Regions from separate parts of the Homo sapiens genome. Here region 2 is linked to region 1. The links come from fine-mapping of genetic effects on gene expression. A gene starts in region 1. The other region holds a variant in brackets. All regions are shown on one strand. Distances are between the middles of the regions.

Evidence for each region.
Region 2: its variant is fine-mapped to the expression of RBM24 in nasal epithelium (TOPMed, PIP 0.99).

Annotation. Positions count from the first base shown.
Region 1 is chr6:17,276,423-17,286,008 of GRCh38, reverse strand. It overlaps RBM24 (RNA binding motif protein 24), which reads right to left and starts at 4,648. Exons shown (of 4, transcript NM_001143942.2): 1 at 4,260-4,648; 2 at 3,081-3,204; 3 at 1,298-1,352. The coding sequence starts at 4,427.
Region 2 is chr6:17,517,670-17,527,255 of GRCh38, reverse strand. The region is part of intron 7 of CAP2 (cyclase associated actin cytoskeleton regulatory protein 2); the gene reads right to left. Among named protein-coding and RNA genes, the nearest start is that of FAM8A1, 78 kb to the left of the region's middle. The variant G/A (reference allele first, on the strand shown) is at 4,636.

The DNA of each region.
Region 1 (9,586 bases):
ACACAGGTAGATGTTTTAGGTCCTAAGCTAGAGGAGAAATTATTATTGAGGATAAAACACTCTTTCAACAACATGAACATTTAAAAAGAAAATTTAAGTATCCTGCGTTAGAGTTACAGGCATGTTGATCAGGTAGAACAGAGCCAAAACAGAATCTAGTGTCCAGGATAAATTGAGGCGAGGGGTGATCTCCCACCCATATAACCTCTGAAAGGAAGAGAAATGAGGACCTTGGAACAGGAAAACTGGTAATCACAGGACCCAAAGACAACATAAATATGAACAGGTGTTCACCTGAGTTAGATCTGAAAGGTGAAAGTTAGTGTGACGCTACTCAAAAAAACTGGCTTGTGTTAATAAAATCTGATGAGAGTTGTTGAACCTTTAAATTAGATGGCCTAAAAGTGGATACACATTGCAAAAGAAAGAACCCCATTCCCAGAAAATTTCCCATAAAACAGAAACTTAGGACATGCAAGCAATGAATCTGTATTCTGACAAAGAGAAATCACACAATTTAGCACTCACTACAAAAATGTGGTTAAATGGAAGTCACAGGCTACAGCTTAAAAGCAAGAAAAAAAAAAAGGCCCTTTGCTTCCCATGGCAAAGTCAAAAGTCAACACCCCTCAACACCACCACCAAAATCAAAACGCAAAGAGCCCCTTCCCCGAGGAAAAGAAAACACTTTCACTACAGCTCTTTTCAATTAAGTAAAAAGCACACAGTTTAGCTATCAACACCACTTCATTACTGTAATAAATAAAATAAAGCACACGAAGGGCTATTGACTATTGTGAAAAATAAAAACAACAACACCAACATCCATGCATCGTTAATCACCATCTGAGCTTGTGTGTCTGAGTCTACTGGTTACAGAGTTTAATTCCAAACAGAACTATTCCACCTCTTATCATGGTATCCTTCTGATCAGTTAGCTTAACTGTATACGAGCCCTGTCAGGTTAGAAAGAGATAAATAAAATTGAGTCAAGTCGAACAGTAGTAATGGTGATGGGACACAATCGTCTTGTACACAAGTCATACCTGGTATTTTTGTTTTGTTTTGCTAATCATAAGCTCAAAATTTGTCTCGTTTGGAGGCTGCATACTTGGTCAGATAACTTGACTCATCTAAAAATATTTATAGTATCAGCATTAAAAATGCACAAATATATATAAAATTGTATAACTAGGACCATTCTGTGACATCATGATCTTATCTGTATATAACAAAGAGGCACGTTAACAAATGATAGTCATACTGAAACTTAAGAAAGCCTGATTAATCAACTTACCCGAAAGGTCTTTGTATAAGGGCTGGATGAAGTTGTTGAACACCAAAGGCAAAACCTAACAACAAAATATACCACATTCTTTATTTGTGCATGGTTAGGCATTTATTATTCCTACATGTAAAATGCAATCACAACTTTCACTTATAAAAGATAAACATTCTTTCGCCACTTTAAAGAAACTATATGTATGTATATTTTTTAAAGTCAGTTTTATAAATGCTATCATTGATTCAAAATAAAGGTTTTAACAGAGAAAAGGTGAAAACTTTAAAAAAATCTGCAAATTTTAGTTGACAGACACAGAATCAGACCTTGGGAAAATGTTCATGAAATAAAATTAAGTACAGCAGGATTTGACAGTGAAGTTACATCTCAAATATTCTCACAGTTTTGAACCAGAATCTATGAAAAGTCTTTGTAATTTGGAACGTTCTGGGATGCTTCAGACAATGCTTTGGAAGATTATGGGTTTTACACTTTCCAGTATTAAAAATTCACAAAAAAAAATGTTTTTTTTCTGGATACTACATACCCACAATGTATTAGACAAATTTTTTTAACGCCCATGAATATTTGCACAAACACTCATTTTCTTGACAACCTAGTTTCCTTTTAAACCCGTTTGGATGGAAGTGTCAACCTCTTCCCAAAATTTCAGATGGAAAGGCTTAGGAGTGAAGAGTATATGATTTAATCAAACTTTACAAGTAAAGTTGCCTGACCAAAGAAAATATTATATTTGCTTAAAAATCAACTCTCAACTATTTGTGCTAATGCAAAGGGCAGTGTTGTAAATAATCCAAGAGGTATTGTTTTCCCATAGACAAAAAACTGCTCCCTTTTGGCAACTAATAGCTACATGACTTAAGTAAAATATTTCTCATCTCTAAGCATCAGTTTCTTTGTCTGTAGCATAGGGTTCTTGAGTAGGTGCAATTTCTGTTTTCTTTGATTGCTAATACTCTGTGATTTTATGTTGAAGGTTTACCATTTTGGGCCAGGCGCGGTGGCTCACGCCTGTAATCCCAGCACTTTAGGAGGCCAAGGCGGGTGGATCACCTGAGGTCAGGAGTTCAAGACCAGCCTGACCAACACAGTGAAACCCCGTCTCTACTAAAAATACAAAATTAGCTGGGTGTGGTGACACATTCCTGTAATCCCAGCTACTTGGGAGGCTGAGGCAGGACAATCACTTGAACCCAGGAGGCGGAGGTTGCAGTGAGCCTAGATCGCGTCATTGCACTCCAGCCTGGGCAACAAGAACGAAACTCCATCTCAAAAAAAAACAAAACCTTTACCATTTGGACATCGCCCCTACCCCTTAATGCTTCCCTTGGGTCTGTGTTCAAGTCAGACTGCCTGCTCTGAGCACAGTGCAACTGGTGCTAAAAGGAGAGACACCACTAAGTAGGGAAGTATATTAGCTGAAGTCGACAAATTTGGCCTATATAATCCACATGTGAATTATCTACAGGTGGCTAAAAATTGGAAAATTGAGAGCAGACTACAAATGTATGCCATATAGGAAACAGGTGAGACATGACTAACTCTTCTTCCTGCACGACCCCCAAGATCCATTTTTGCACACAGGTACATTTCAAGCCTTGAGAGGAGTATTTACAACTCTCATTTATGTTTAATGCCTTGGTAGAATAACAAGCCATGGTTCAAGTTTACTAAACACATCTACAGAAAGAGACAATGTCTTCTAAATTAGAGAATCATCCCACCCATAAATGGGGGGTTCTTGGAGAGGGGGGTAGGGGAGACAGACATTTCTCACCTGGTTGCATGATCCTTGGTTTTGCTCCTAAGTATGCCAGGTTCACGTTGGCCTTTCTGCCATCAATGATGGGATTGGGATCCTTGCAGGCCCTTTCGGCAGCAGCCCGGTCAGCCATGGTGACCTTAGCAACAGACACACACAGACATACATACATAACCTCTAAATTAACCCATGAAGGAAATCAAGAATCACAATGGAGAAGTCATTCATGATAAAACTGAGATCAAACTTTTTTTCTATTCTTTGCTTCTTTTGGCTGGACCCTCCTCCTTGATCTCCCATTTTTAACAGGCGGGCGGGGGCGTGGGGGGGGGGGGCGGGTAGACGAAGGAAAAAAGAAAGAAACCCTCTAACCCTGCCTCCCCCCACCCCACCGCCGAAATCTTAAGGGTGTTAGTAGGGCCTAGCCGAGATTTGGAAGCCTAAATTCTTGGAACTCTAGATCCTCCTTCCCCCGAATCCCCCGCCCCCCAGGTCCCTACTCAGCCTCAGAGGCACCGTTTGCTTTAAAGAAAGTCCAGCCTTACATCCGCCCAACGCTCCCAACCTCGAAAACACTCCCCAACGACAATAGCTATTGTCCTACTCTGGGGCTCCCTGCTCTTCGGCAGCTGAATTTGCACGCTTAAATCTCTAGGAAGGAAGCTTAATATGCTCTGTTTCAGTTCGGCAAAGAGCCCTAGGATCATGATTTAAAAGAACCTACCTTTGCAGTTAAAAGGCGGGGGGATGACACAAGGGCAACAGCCCCAGACCTCGTGGGGTGTCCCCTCCCTGCCCCAGCCAAAACACCAGAACACACGCATTTTTACAAAGCAACAGCGCGCTTAACAACCGGCATCCAGCCCGGGAATGCAATTGTTCAGGGTTGCGGCCCCTCCCTCGCAACCCTCCGCACCCCAAATCCCGCCGTCATTACAGGTCTCTCCTTTCACCCCTGCTCTGCCCTGCCCGGCCCCCGACCTCGCACAGCGCTGGGTCTTCTCCGAACCCCGCGAGGCTGGCGCCGACCCTCTCCCCTAGCAAAGTTTCAGTTCACCCCGGAGCGAAGGGGCAGCGCCGCTCTACCCGCGGGGCTCCTCACGGGTCACGCCGAGCCCCTCACTCCAAGCTCCCGATCCCCGGGGTCAGCCGCCACTCCGTCCCTCCCCGTCACCCCCAGTCCGTGCAACTTACAAATCCATAGCCCCGGGACTTGCCCGTCTGCCGGTCGGTGATGACCACCGCCTCCTCGATCTCGCCGAAGACCTCGAAGTACTTGCGCAGGCTGGCGTCGGTGGTGTGGTAGGGCAGCCCCCCGACGAAGATCTTGGTGTACGTCGTGTCCTTCTGGGTCGTGTGCATCTTCGCACCCGCCCCGCGGCTCGGGCTCCGGCTGCGGCTGCGGCTCGGGCAGCGGCTGCGCCTCCTCCTCCGGCTCCGCGTCTCCCGCACCCTTTCGCGGCCGCCGGGGGCCAAGGGCGAGCCCGGGGGCGAGGGCGGCGGCGCGGCGGGGGCGAGCGGCCGGGGGCGGCCGAGAGCGCCGGGCGCGCGGCTTCCGAAGTCGCCAGCGGCCCTGGAGACTTGACTTCGCTCTCTCCTCCCGCCCCCCCTGCCGGTCACCGTACAAATTCTCCGGATCGTCTGGATTAGAATCGGGTTCTATAGAATGTGCAAGCGGTTTCCACTCACCCGGCGGGGAGGCCAAAAATGAAAAGAGAGGGTAGTTCTCAAGCGAAGAAGCGGGTGCTTTAGAGGTAGATTTTTCTTCCTTAGGAATCAGGTGCCTTGGGTGGGGTGTGGGGAGGGTCCGCGGGAAGAGCGTCCGAGCGCCGAAGCGGGCGGGGGGCGCGGCGGCGGGGCCAGGGGCGAGGAACTCCGCGCAGCTTCGGCTCTGGTCTGTCCCTCCCGCCGTGGGATCTGGAAGACGAGTGCCGAGGACAGCTCTCCACCTCTCTGCTCCCTTCCCCCGCGGGCCGGGGGTCGACGCCCGGCTGGGGAGGGGGGCGGGCCGGACGCCTGCGATTGGCCGCGGCAGCACCTGGGGCGCCGGGCGCCGCCGCCCCCCAGCTGTTGGGAACAGCTGCTTCTCTCCCCGCGCGGCGCGGCGCTGGGGCTCGGGGCTCCCGCTCTGTAGCCGGCGATGGGGTAGGGCTGGAGACGCCTGTAGGCGGCCTGGCTCTCGGCGTCGCCTGCTCTAACCAGTCAAAGTCTTAGGGACCCGGCGCAGCACCAGCCGGGACCCAGGGTGCGGGGACTGTGCCCAAGGAGGAAGCTGCGTTGCTTTCCAGAGGGGACGACGCGAGCTTTTTGGGTTAGGCCTCGGTGACAGGGCCGGCGACCTGGACTGGCGAACTGGGGTCCCCAGAGGCCTGGGGCGATTCGCTGAGAGGCCAATCCCCTCCCGGGCGCGGGGGGTCAAGGAGCTCGGCCGAACGAAACCCAAGCTGGACACCCTGGGGTCTGAAGAGTGAGAAGGAGGGCCCCAACTTTCTTTGGCCCCAAAAAGCCAGTGCGGGGAAGTATCAGAGAGGTAGAGCCAGAAGGAAAAGAAAGATCTAGCGCTTGGGTGTAGTTGGGAAAACCATTAGCTTTAATTGCTACCGCCCAGCCAAACCAAGTAACCGGAGATACCTATGTCCATCAGGCACCGCCTTCTATTTCAGAGGACCATAAGTTAGTATTTTAGCCCCCACAGTCACCAAATTTGTCTTTCCTCCCTAACTTAGTTATTCAGGAAGATTGGTACAGATGTCTTAGCATAAGTCGTTCTTTTTTTTTTTTTTTCCCTAAACAAAGAATTAATCTATTTCTTTCTCTTTGAATTACAAGAATGTTTAGTGGCTTGACCTCATCTGTTTTTATCTGGATGTAAATGTAAAAGGTATAATTTTTGAAATCAACTTATTGCATAACCAGTGGTTTCTACCAGCAGACCTGAAAGCATTTGTAGAACATAGGGCACCCCATATATATTTATTACTTTACATCAGCTTTTTGCAACTTCTTTTAATTGAGAATTCATTCAATTAGGCCTTAAAATCAATCAGTCATACTTGAGGTTTGGATGAAAATATTTGATGTGAGCAGAAGGTTTCATCCACCATTGTTGGTGCACAATTGCCTTTTAAGTCCTTTCTACGGGAGTCTACAGTCCCTACATTAATCGCCCCTGAGCCGCACCATTTATTCCATTAAAACAATTCAGTATGTTAACCGTTAGAGAGGTGCATACTCTGTTTCTCTCCAGGACACCTTTGCAGTCAACCCAAGAGGGTGAGAAATGTTGCATTTGCAAAGGCTAATGGGAATGCAAATATTCTTGTGCAAAACATTAAATTCCGTTTTTCATCTTGCTGACTTCCTCATGAGGTTGACTTTTTGACGTCACTGGTTTCTTTAAGTTTGAACCCCCAGTGGGAGATATAGAGAAATCAGAAATCTATTAAAGTTAAAAACATTTTTTTCACCCGATTAAAAAAATAATAAAGAATTTTACAGACAGATGAGAGCCAGAAAGTGAAATTGTAAACACCCTCTCTTCATTACTTAAGTTAAAGGACAGGTTCAAAAACGACTCTCTGTGCTGGTATGATGAAAGATAATTTTTAAAAGTTAGAAAAACAAAGCAGGCGGGGAAAGAGAAGAGGCGTGTTTTTTAATATTCAACATCCATCTTGTGTCATTTAAGAATTACTGTACGTAGATGAGGCTCAGGCAAAACCCTTTTGTGAAGGGAAGCTGCTTAGAGAGAAGCCTTAGAAGGGCGCCTTTGGCTGTCTCGCCTTTCTTCCTACCTGGATTGGGAGCCCACCCTGGAGAGGACTGTGATAATATCAGGGAAGGAGGGTGTCTGGGAGTGTAGCCAGCAGCTAGGATGTTCACTAGGTAAAGTGGTGAGATCTACAAGGAAATTCTGATCCCGGGTTGGAATACTTGTGTCCTAGAACTCAGCTTCTGGAAATAAGACGCCTCCTTGTCATTGTCCCTCCCATCCCGTGCAACCCCTGACTGCAGTGTTTTTATTCTTTCAAGGGAACAGTAAATACTTGATCACTTTGCCTGAAACTTTGCCTGGACGGTCCCTAATTTTGAATTCCAGGGATAATTAAAACATTACTAATACACTGGTATTACGTGAGTCACTGAGAACAAAGGTTAAGAGGGATGGAGATTCCTTATTTTCCAAACGTATTTAAACGGAAGCCAGAATTCATACCCAGTTCATCTCAACAAACTTTCATCAAGACCCCCTTCCCTTCGCCCAGGCAAGCACTGTGGTAGGCATCATTGCTGCCCCTGTGGGTTTTGTTTTACATTTGCACCAAGGTGGACACAGTTAAAATGGCCAGATCCTCATTCTTGGTGGATTTACGAATCTGAGCCATCAAATCATGTAGCCTTGGGGCCATAAAGTTTTTCTGAATTCAAGGTTTCAAGGTTAAGTACCGAATATTTCTGTACAATTACTCATTACAAATTCAGGTTTGAAAAACAATGCTTGGATAATCCTTTTGCTTTGTCAGCTGCTTTTGGCAGAGAATACTTGTATATTCACAGGCCTTGTGCAATATAATGTGTGCTTCTTTGGAAAGAAAGAACCATAAAATACTGTAAAAGTTATAAATAGGTTCCACAAGGTTGTCATCTCCAAATTAGTACATATGGATGGGCCTGAAGTTTTGGTTCCTACTCCATGGCAAGATCAATATTATTTTATTACTTACTGTAAATTATTGTCCACTTTGTTCAAAATCTTTATCTGACTATAAAGGCCAGAACCAAACTCACAAGTTTCACATTCATGTATAACTGTCTTCTCTTCTCCCCTTGCCTCTTAAATTAATCATGGAAATCAACTTCAGGCTCACAGCCTTTTAGAATAATTTTGAAAAAAGAGAGAAATATTTCATGAAGATTGAGAAGCACTCTTTTGGGCTTTGTACCCCAGAGATAATATTGCTTTGGACAATAAGCCACCTGAGAGCAGGGTGACACTCTTAGGTGTCACTGGATCTCCTGCTGGTTATTAAAACCCTTCAGAGGGTTCTACATATACTTGGCACTAAAGAAATATTTACTGAAAAAAAATTGATGTTTTAAAGATGCCTGCCTTCAAGCTTGATGGGAAGAAATGCATTCTTGATTAGAATTGACGACCTATAAAGTGGGCACTTTTTTTTTTTTTTTGAGGCTGGGCACTTTTTTGTTTTTTTTTTTTAAACAAAAATATGGCTTCAGTGAAGTCTTTTGTTTTGGTGGTTTGGAAATATTTTATCTTCTTTTGAGTATCTGTGTGAGCATTTTGATGTAAAACCAACAGGTTTTCTGGCCTTTTGAGAAGTCCCGTCATCAGCTGTATTTCTGTTTCTTTGGGTGGGTTGCTAATTCTCTCTCAGTAACAGATAACAAATGTGTGTGATAGGTTATGCTGCTATTTTAGTGTGCAGAAGAATTGGCAGTCAAAAACCTAGTCAGTTCAGCTCAGACTCACCTCTGGGGGAATTCTATTCATGTTGCATTAAACCACAGCTAAGCTGGTAAATAAAGTGAAATGCAAATTTGTGCCTGTTATTCAGTCATTAAAGTCATAATGTCTCTTTTACACTGAAAATCCAAAAAACAGAAAGCAGAGCAGGATTATTTGAGGGACAGGCAAGGGCAAAAATCAAAGTGTCGAGGGACAAAAATGTTCATTGCCAGTGTCACCGTGCCAGTAATTTCACCCTGCCTGTGTAGAAGTAGCTTTAAGTGTATGCACACTTTAATTTCTATTATGTAAACCCGAAAGGCAAGAAAGAGAATGCAAACATTTTAAACCCACTGTGTGCTTGTTCACATTTTAAACTCAGGGTGTCCTTTGGTTTTAAGTCTTTTAAACAGTGAGCTTCTGAGCTGCCAAGTTATTTTTAGGGAACTGATGATACTCTCCAAATGTATTGAATGACCTCTCTCTGGATGACAAATACATTCTAATGCTGTTGCTTGTGGGCTGGGCAGAGGGCACCGGGTGATGGAAATAGTCCTGGATCTCAAGACAGGAGACCTAGAGTCTAGTCCAGGCAGTTATTAACCAGCCCCAAGACCTTGTTTGGTTTATTTCATTAAAAAGGACAAATGTGGTTAGAAAAATACTCATGATCTTATCCTAGAATGGAGGATACTAGCGTGACCCTTTATTTAAAGATGTCTATAGAGGGTGACCTCTGACTTCAAAGATGGCTTAATGTTAATACTTGAGTGTTGCTTATTAACTTTTTAATTTAAGCCATTTGAGATCATTTTGTAAGATTGATATTTTCTCTGATAACAAAGGAAAGGCATATTCATGATAGAAAGTTATGAAAACATAAAGATATACAAAGAAGAAAATAAAAATTACCCACAATTCTTTCTACTCCTTAAAATAACTGTTGACATTTTAGAGTATCTAATTCCAGGCTTTTCTTATACATAAATATACACACGTAAGTGTTACAAAAGGAAAGTACAGCTTTTATCAGCTTTTTAAAAAAACTACTAGT
Region 2 (9,586 bases), 240 kb before region 1:
CTTCATTTGGCCAGAAGGGCCTAAGTCTGAACTACCACTAAATTCAGGTTTTTTTCTTTCAGATTTCAGGGGCATACAGAAACGACTGTACTTTCTCCAATTATCTATACTTAGTAGATAGTAGAGGTGGGGGTTAAGGCAAAACAATAGCTGTTAGAAAGATTAGTTACCTTTGGCTCCATATTATATATGCATTTTGTTTATTTAGGGATGCTTAGTTTGCATCAAGGGTGCAGACTGGACCAATAAACCGTGGCCAGGGCTTGCCTATGTGTTCTTTTTTTTTTTTTTTTTTTTTTGAGACAGAGTCTTGCTCTGTCGCCCAGGCTGGAGTGCAGTAGCATGATCTCAGCTCACTGCAATCTCCGCCTCCTGGGTTCCAGCGATTCTCCTGCCTCAGCCTCCCGGGTAGCTGGGACTATAGGCATGCGCCACCATGCCCGGCTAATTTTGTATTTTTAGTAGAGACGGGGTTTCACCATGTTGGCCAGGCTGGTCTCGAACTCCTGACCTCAGGGGATCTGCCTGCCTCAGCCTCCCAAAGTGCTGGAATTACAGGCGGGAGCCACTACGCCCAGCCTGTGTGTTCTGTTTTATGAAGGGTTTGTTTTACCTTTAGAAGATAATCTGCACCTTCCCCCATTTCCCTTTTTAAGAAAACAGTTTTTGCTTAAGTTAATACTACCTTCTGTTTCCTGAGTTTATACCAACTGAGAATGAAAGGCAGTGGGTGACAAGGGACAGGAGCAGAGGAGGTGTGGGCGGTTGATGGGTGTTCCTGAATAAAATGCATTGTCCATTCCATTCCTATCACTGGACAGAAGGAAAGACACATTTTGGCTGGGTGCGGTGGCTGACGCCTGTAATCCCAGCACTTTGGGAGGCACAGAAGGTTGGATCACCTGAGGTCAGGAGTTTGAGACCAGCCTGGCCAACATGGTGAAACGCTGTCTCTACTAAAAATACAAAAATTAGTCAGGTATGGTGGTGCGTGCCTGTAATCCCAGCCGCTCTTGAGGCTGAGGCAGGAGAATAGCTTGAACCCGGGAGGTGGAGGTTGCAGTGAGCTGAGTTCACACCACTGCACTCCAGGTTGGGCGACAGAGCGAGACTCCATCATTAAAAAAAAAAAAAAGACACATTTTCATGCAGCTTTTGAAAAACAGACATGATCTATAGTTAATGGACTAACGCTTTGGAAATTTCATTGTGATGACAAATGAATACAGTGGATTTAGCAAATGTGTTTGAATCCTATCTGTTTTCAAGTCACTGCTGTCCCAGAACCAGGGTACCAGTCACTGCTACTGATCTCAGGCTGAACTGGAAATGGAGCCTGCATTCAATGAGCTCATAGTTTAGGAAGAGAGGATACTTCTGTGTTCCCAGACGTGGCAGGCACTTGGCTCCCAGACTTTGAGTCTTTGCTCAGGGCGTGTCTAGTTTGGAAGGCTCTTGCCCAACTGACTATCTGGAAAACAGCCTTCAAGCCTCAACCAAAATGTGTCTTTCCTCCTTTCGTAGGGTTTTTGGAACTCTCTTAGGAGGGAATTCCATGTTTCAATGTGGCACAGTGCCTGAAACATGGTTAAGTGCTTCATAAACATGTTACTGAATGAGAAAATAACTGCCATATAAGGTAGGAAATGCTAAGCAACACAAAAGAAATGGAGAGTATAAGAAGTGCTATGCAGCCGCTGAGGATGGAAGGATAACTTCCAGCTTGTGGTGGGCATGGTGATAAGCAGAGGTTGGAGAAGCTTCTTTTTTCTTTCTTTTTTTTTTTTGAGATGGAATCTTGCTCTGTCACCCAGGCTGGAGTGCAGGAGTGCAGTGTGTGATCTACGCTCACTGCAGCCTCCGCCTCACAGGTTCAACCGCCTCGCAGGTTCAATAAATGTATATTAACTTGCTAGCCCTTATTTTAGAGAGCTTTGAATTCTTGATTATGAAAAAGTTCTGGTAAATAAAATAATACTGACCATTAAAGTAGGCAGCTTTAAAAGCTACTACTATTTTGATTGATGGAGAGAAAGATTTAATACTCTAAAATGGCCAGGTGTGGTGGCTCATGCCTGTAATCCCAGCACTTTGGGAGGCCAAGGCGGGAGGATCACCTGAGGTTAGGATTTCGAGACCAGCCTGGCCAACATGGTGAAACCCCATTTCTATTTTTAAAAAAAGTACAAAAAGTAGCCAGGTGTGGTGGCGCGCACCTGTAGTCCCAGCTACTCGGGAGGCTGAGGCAGGAGAATCGCTTGAACACGAAAGGCAGAGGTTGCAGTGAGCCAAGATCATGCCACCACTGAACTCCAGCCTGGGTGACAAGAGCGAAACTCCAACTCAAAAAAAAAAAAAAAAAGAAAAGAAAAGAAAAGAAATACTCTAAAATATTTATAGATTCTTATTAAGGTATGAGGCAGGCTTGACTGGGGCTGGGCAGGACTTGAATGCCAAACCAGACTGAAGACTCGCTGCAATGGGGGAAAGAGGTGAAAGCACCTCTCCAGAAGACATGCCCACCAGGGCCATGTCAGTTGACCACTGCCATGGCAACACCTGGAAGTTACTAACTACCCCTTTCCATGGCAATGACCTGGAAGTTATCACCTCTTTTCTAGAACTTTCTGAATAACTTCCCCCTTAATTTGCCTATAATTAAAAGTGAATATAAATATAATGGCAGAATGGTCCCTGAGCTGCTACTCTGGGCACAGTTCCTATGGTACCCCTGCTGCTGCTGCACATTGCTGCTGCCATAGAAGCTGCTGTCTAACACCGCTGGCTCACCCTTGAATTCTCGCCTGGGCAAAGCCAAGAACCCTCCTGGCTAAGCCCCACTTTTGGGGTTCACCTTCCCTGCATCATTATCAACTGACACTAAAACTCAAAGGTATTTATGAGATAATAAAAACAGTTCTAAATAGAACACATTTACTTAGAGCTTCACAGTATAGCTCTTAATGACTGTGTGTGAAATTGGAGATATTTGACTATTTTTCACCTATTCTATTGAAGATATAGCACAGATTAAAATGAAAATTCACAAATACCCCAAATTTCAAAAGGCAGAAATTGAAGCCATAAGAAATAATCCATCAAATTAGACAACTGGTCCAGAAATAATCAAGAGATCATTACAGGAAAACTTCTTACTCCTTTTTTTTTTTTTTTTTTTTTTGAGACAGAGTCTTTCTCTGTCACCAGGCTGGAGTGCAGTGGCGCGATCTCAGCTCACTGCAACCTCTGCCTCCTGGGTTCAAGCCATTCTCTCCTGCCTCAGCCTCCTGAGTAGCTGGGACTACAGGCATGCGTCACCACGCCCAGCTAATTTTTGTATTTTTAGTAGAGACGGGGTTTCATCATGTTGGCCAGGATGGTCTTGATCTCTTGACCTTGTGATCCAACCGCCTCAACCTCCCAAAGTACTTTGATTACAAAAACATTTTACTCCTTAATTCTGTAAAACTGCATCTGCCTCCAGTCCTCCAGAAACTGCTCTTGGAAGGTTACTAATAACATGGTAAACATGGCTGATGACAGCCTTTGTCCAATCCTTATTCACCACAGCTTACTACAGTTGGTATCACTGGCCAGCCTGTTTTCCCTATAGCTTTGAGACTCTCCATTCTTCTAGTTCTCCTATCTCTTGTCTCCTTGATTAGTTTACCCCATTCTTGAAATAATAGTGTTTTCCAAGGTTTTATCCTTGATCTCACTCTCTCTTTTTTAACCATCTTATTTATTTGCCGGTCTTTTCTAGGTAGATGACTCCCAACACGTACATCGGGGTCTCCCCCTTCAGTGAATTCCAGATCTAAATCTCACCTCCTGACTCCACGTGTTTGGATGTCTCTCCTATACCTCCCGCACCTCAAACACAATGCAGTGAAACCCCAGGTGAAGATTTTTCTTCCTTCTCTACCAGCTCCTCCTTGCGATTTCCCTATTTTTATATTACCACGATTCTCTCCCAGACTTCCAGATTGGAAATTTTGTGTTAGATTTTATGTCCCTTGTCCTCCAACTCAGTGGCTACTCCATCTCTTTGCATTGCCATTGTCACACTCTAGGTCACATACTAACTACCTCACCCTCTAGCCATCCACTAAAGTCTCCCAACACGTATCAGGGCCTCTAATCTCTTCCCCTCTCCATCTATCTTATGCAATTCCTAAGTCATTATTCACAGTGTGTTGCTTTCTGCTTAAGAACCCATGCAGGCTGGGTACGGTGGCTCACACCTGTAATCCCAGCACTTTGGGAGGCCAAGGCGAGTGGATCACCTGAGGTATCAGCCAGGCATGGTGGCATATGGCTGTAGTACCGGCTACTCTGGAGGCTGAGGCAGGAGAATCACCTGAACCCAGAATGCGGAGGTTGCAATGAGCCGAGATCGTGCCACTGCACTCCAGCCTGGCGACAGAGTGAGACTCTGTCTCAAAAACAAAAAACAAACAACAAAACCTATGGCAAAGGAAACAACTTCAAACACTACATAGCCCCACCTTCTTAGCATAATGCATAAGGATTTCACCATCTGGCCCCAACCTGCCTTTCTGGCCTCACCTTTTGCCACATTCAGCTCTGCAAAACCACCAGCCTTTCTCTCAAAGTACATTGTTCATGTCTTAC[G/A]TACATATGCTGAATTCTCTGCCCCAAAACTGCCCTTCCCTTTACTGTTTGCCTAGGGAACTCCTGCTCACCGTCAAGATCCAAATCAAGTGTCAGCCCTTTTGTGGCTCTTCGTGCCCACCCAGGAAGGAGTCTAATTCACAAGGCTTATTTTCCAACCTAGCTTTGTATTGCTGTTATTTATTTATGCATCATAATAAAAACCCTGCTGCTTCACGGAAGAACTGTAGTATAAATATAATGCCTGGTGTGTGCTTGGTACATGGTAAGTAGCCAATAAGTAGTTACCAAGGAAGTGAATTACTAAATAAATGAACGTGTAAAAGTGAATGATTTCCCTATAACAACTCCTTTGGCCCAACTTAAATACAGTAGAGCAGTGCTTTTCGAACTTCACTATGCATATAAATTACCTGGGAATCCTGTTGAAAAGTAGGTTGTGATTTGGGAGGGCTGAGGTGGGGCCTGAGAGCCTGAGATTTCTTTTTTTTTCTTTCCTTTTTGTCTTTTTTGAGACAGAGTCTTGCTCTGTCGCCCAGGCTAGAGTCCCGTGGTGCAATGCAGGCTGACTGCAACCTCCACCTCCCAGGTTCAAGCGATTCTCCTGCCTCAGCCTCCTGAGTAGCTGGGATTACAGGTCTGCACCACCACGCCCAGCTAATTTTTGTATTTTTAGTAGAGACAGGTTTTCACCATGTTGGCAACACTGGTCTCGAACTCCTGACCTTAGGTGATCTACCCGCCTCAGCCTCCCAAAGTGCTGGGATTACAGGCTTGAGGTACCGCGCCCAATCAAGGGGCCTGAGCTTTCTAACAAGTGCCCAGGTTGCTGTTGGCCCCAGAACCATGCTGCACTACAGGATGGGCCGTATCTTCCACGTGGTCCTGGTCTATGCAAGCGTCATGCCTTGTGTGGATTCCCTAGCACACTGCTCCCCCTGTTCTATCATGGTGCATTGCTCATCTTCTTCAGCTAGAATGCGCGTTTCCGTGGACAGGAATCGTGTCCACAATGCCATCTACCCATCTTTGTATTCTTAGCCCCTTGCCCAGAACTCAGTGCATAGTAGATGCTTAAGCCATATTGGTTTAATTATGTGGTCTCTGTCAGGCTGAACTCACAGCCACTTCCAACCTAACTTTACTATCTACCTGTGCATTTGAGGCTTCTTTGTTAGTTGATGACACTTCTTTTTTTTTTCTGAGACGGAGTCTCGCTCTGTGGCCCAGGCTGGAGTGCAGTGGTGCCATCTTGGCTCACTGCAAGCTCCGCCTCCCAGGTTCATGCCATTCTCCTGCCTCAGCCTCCCGGTAGCTGGGACTACAGGCACCCGCCACCTTGTGCGGCTAATTTTTTTTTTTGTATTTTTAGTAGAGACAGGGTTTTACCGTGTTAGCCAGGATGGTCTCGATCTCCTGACCTCATGATCTGCCCGCCTCGGCCTCTCAAAATGCCGGGATTACAGGCATGAGCCACTGCGCCCAGCCAGTTGATGACACTTCTAACCCCTGTTGAGCAATGTGGAACCCTTCCATAAGAGAATAAGAGTAACTGGCCACCCAGAGCCCCAGAAGGGACCTAGAAGCCCAAACTGAACTAAGTAGAACGACGCAGCTGTGGTCAGGTACACTGGCCAGGGCCACTCCGTGGGAAGAGCCATAGAGAACAGTGAGCTTTGTCATCAGACAACCAACACATCATCTGAGGCGCTGCCCATTCACTTTGATTAATACCCCTAAGGTGTGGGTTTGGTACAAGTTCTAAATGAAAATTTGGATATAAAAGCTTAAGAACAGTTTTCTCTTGTAAATAGCAAGAGGAAGGTAAAGAGGCCTGAAGACTTGAAAACGTACAAGGCATACATATTCATAGTTAATGACATGCCACAGAGTCTACATTATTTATAATAAGTCGGGATACCCTCTGGCTGAGTTTTAATTTGATCAAAAGTAAGCTATTAAACTTTCACTTTGTTAACAGACATTTGGCCTTTACACCAAGAAACAGAAAGAAAAGAAATATCTACCTGGAGGAAAAGAAGTGATCCTAAAGCATTTTGCTTTGGGAAAAATGAAACGCCACCTTGTCTATAATTGTAACCACCACCAACGACTTGCATTTTCCTGGAGGTTCAGGAGAGGCTAGGATGGATGATAGTGTATAGGATGGATTTTTAAAACCCGTATTATTAAGAATTACATTGGCTGGGTGCAGCTTATCATCCTACCATGCTTATCATCCTAGCACTTAGGGAGGCCAAGGCAGGCGGATCACTTGAGCCCAGGAGTTTGAGACCAGCCTGGGCAACGTGGTGAAATCACGTCTCTACAAAAAAAATATAAAAATTAGCCAGGCATGTTGGTGCACGCCTGTAGCCTCAGCTACTTAGGAGGCTGAGGCAGGAGGACTGCTTGAGTTCAGGAGGTCAAGGCTGCAGTGAGCTGCAATCGTGCCACTGTACTCCAGCCTGGGCATCAGAGCGAAACTCTGTATCAAAAAAACAAAACAAAACAAAAAACAGTAACAACAAAAAAAATAGAACTACATCACTATTACATAAGACTGTATATACATTCATCCATGTGCAGTTTTATTCTACTCTACAAATAATTATATCTTATTTGATCCCAAAGCTAAAGTAATTCAGAAATATAGGAAAGGACAGAAATATGTCAACAAGTTTAACAACCGAAAGTTAATAAAATAATCACATTTCTCCTAATCATAGAATTCTTTACATGACCTTTATCTGAGCAGAATTTTCTGAACAGATAATAGTCTGTTTTTAGAACAGGATAATAGTCTGCATTTATAGATTCACAGAAATGAAGAGTTTTGTAGGAAAAAAGTCAATTATTTCAATAATTATAAGGGTAAAGACTAGGCCTTAGTCTTTCGACTTTAGTTATCTGATTTGAAGGAAATGCCAAGGAATATTACAGCTCTGACCAACTGCGAGGGATCCTAAGTAACAGTGCTGCTAATGGGTTTGTGCCAAAAGATCAATTTGTTCAACGAAGTGCATTTGAAACTTAGCACTGAGGAAATGACACAAACTCATATGAAAAAGAGGTCCAGTCCCAAGGATGAAACTAACTGAAAACAGCAAGTTAGTTTCTGGTGTGGGGTCTTTCTAGTTGACAGCTGTCTTAATAAGTTGGAAAAAAGCTCATAGAAATGACAAGATTCCATTTACCATGGTAAATGTAAGAAGACATTCCAGACAGATTATTCCACAGCTGCCTCCTCCCACCCAACTCACCCCACCCCACCCGGCACACTTGCACACACACGTAGACTCTCTTCAAATCGCTGGTCTCAAAGTTTGGCATTTCACCCTGACAACTGAACAGGGCAGCAGTTGCCTGACACAGCTGCGGTCTGGAGGCAGAGGTTAGGAGATGGGATCAGGGACTTTCAGCTCCAACTGTTAACTCAGGGAAGGATGATTTTGTAGAGCCACGTGCCCTTGGACAGTCCAGGTCTCAAACAGCAGGCTGTCAGTCACTAAAAACCCCACAGAGTGCAAATCTCAAAATCCAATTTGAAAATAGAAAAAAACAACAATTACTGAAAGTACTTGAGATGTTAAGTCGTCATAAACTTTTCACGGTGCAAGTAGGAGTTTTGTGCAATGGACTGTGTCTGTTAAGATGGAATGGGTTTTTTTGAAAAACCTCTGGGCTGGATGTGGTGGCTCACGCCTGTAATCCCAGCACTTTCTGAGGCCGAGGTGGGCAAATTCCTTGAGCTGAGGCGTTCTAGACCACCCTGGGCAACATGGCAAAACTCTGTCTCTACAAAAAATAAAAAAATTAGCCAGGTGTGGTGGTGCAGGCCTGTAGTCCCAGCTGCTCGGGAGGCTGAGGCAGGAGGATCATTAGAGTCCAAGAGGTCAAGGTTGCAGTGAGCCATGATTGTGCCACTGCATTCCAGCCTGGGTGTCACAGTGAGACCCTGTCTCAAAAAAACAAAAAAATTAAATTAAAAAAAAAATCTCTGAATACTGTGGTGTCCACAAACATCAACACCACATCTTTCTATAGTCTTTCATGATATTTATCATTTTATAAATACATAGTTTTTACAGAGTTGTGATCAGTGGGCAAACAAATGAAATGGTCTTGCTTTATTTTTTCCTCCCAAAGACCATTCAATCAGATGATTCTAGGAGTCCTTTTCTCTTCTCTGCAAGAATGCTGCAACTCTGGCTATAACTGTTTATCCTCCATTTTGCTGGAATGTCGACAGGCCACAGTCAGAGAGGAGAAATTAGCTTGATTTATGCTATGGACTATGCTTTGGAATCTTTAAGTCGTTTTTAATAATTTAAAAGAAATTTGATTTTAAAATTCAAAAATATAATTGTTATAATATACTTTTTAATAGCTGCCCAAACCTTGGAAGAATAAGATAAAAAATCAGGAAATATATTTCTAGGCATATGTTTTAAAGCTTGACAAAAGATTTTTAATCATTTTTAATATCTGACCAAAACTTTATCATTTTCTCTTCCATTAGAGAAGTGAAGTAGATGCTTTGCTTTTACCATTTTGAATAGAATATTCCCCTGGCATATTATGTGAGCACATAATATGTATAATATAAATAACAGCTGTCATGGCAATCCATGATGCCTGATGTGCTCTATGGATCATATTTATTTTGTATAAATGTAACACGTTTTATAACTATTTATTTATTTATTTATTTATTTTGAGACCAAGTCTCACTCTTGTTGCCCAGGCTGAAGGGCAGTGGCACGATCTCGGCTCACTACAACCACTGCCTCCCGGGTTCAAGCGATTCTCTTGCCTCAGCCTCCCAAGTAGCTGGGATTACAGGTGCCCGCCACCATGCCTGGCTAATTTTTGTATTTTTAGTAGAGACAGTGTTTTGCTATGTTGGCCAGGCTGGTCTCAAACTCCTGACCACAGGTGATCCACCTGC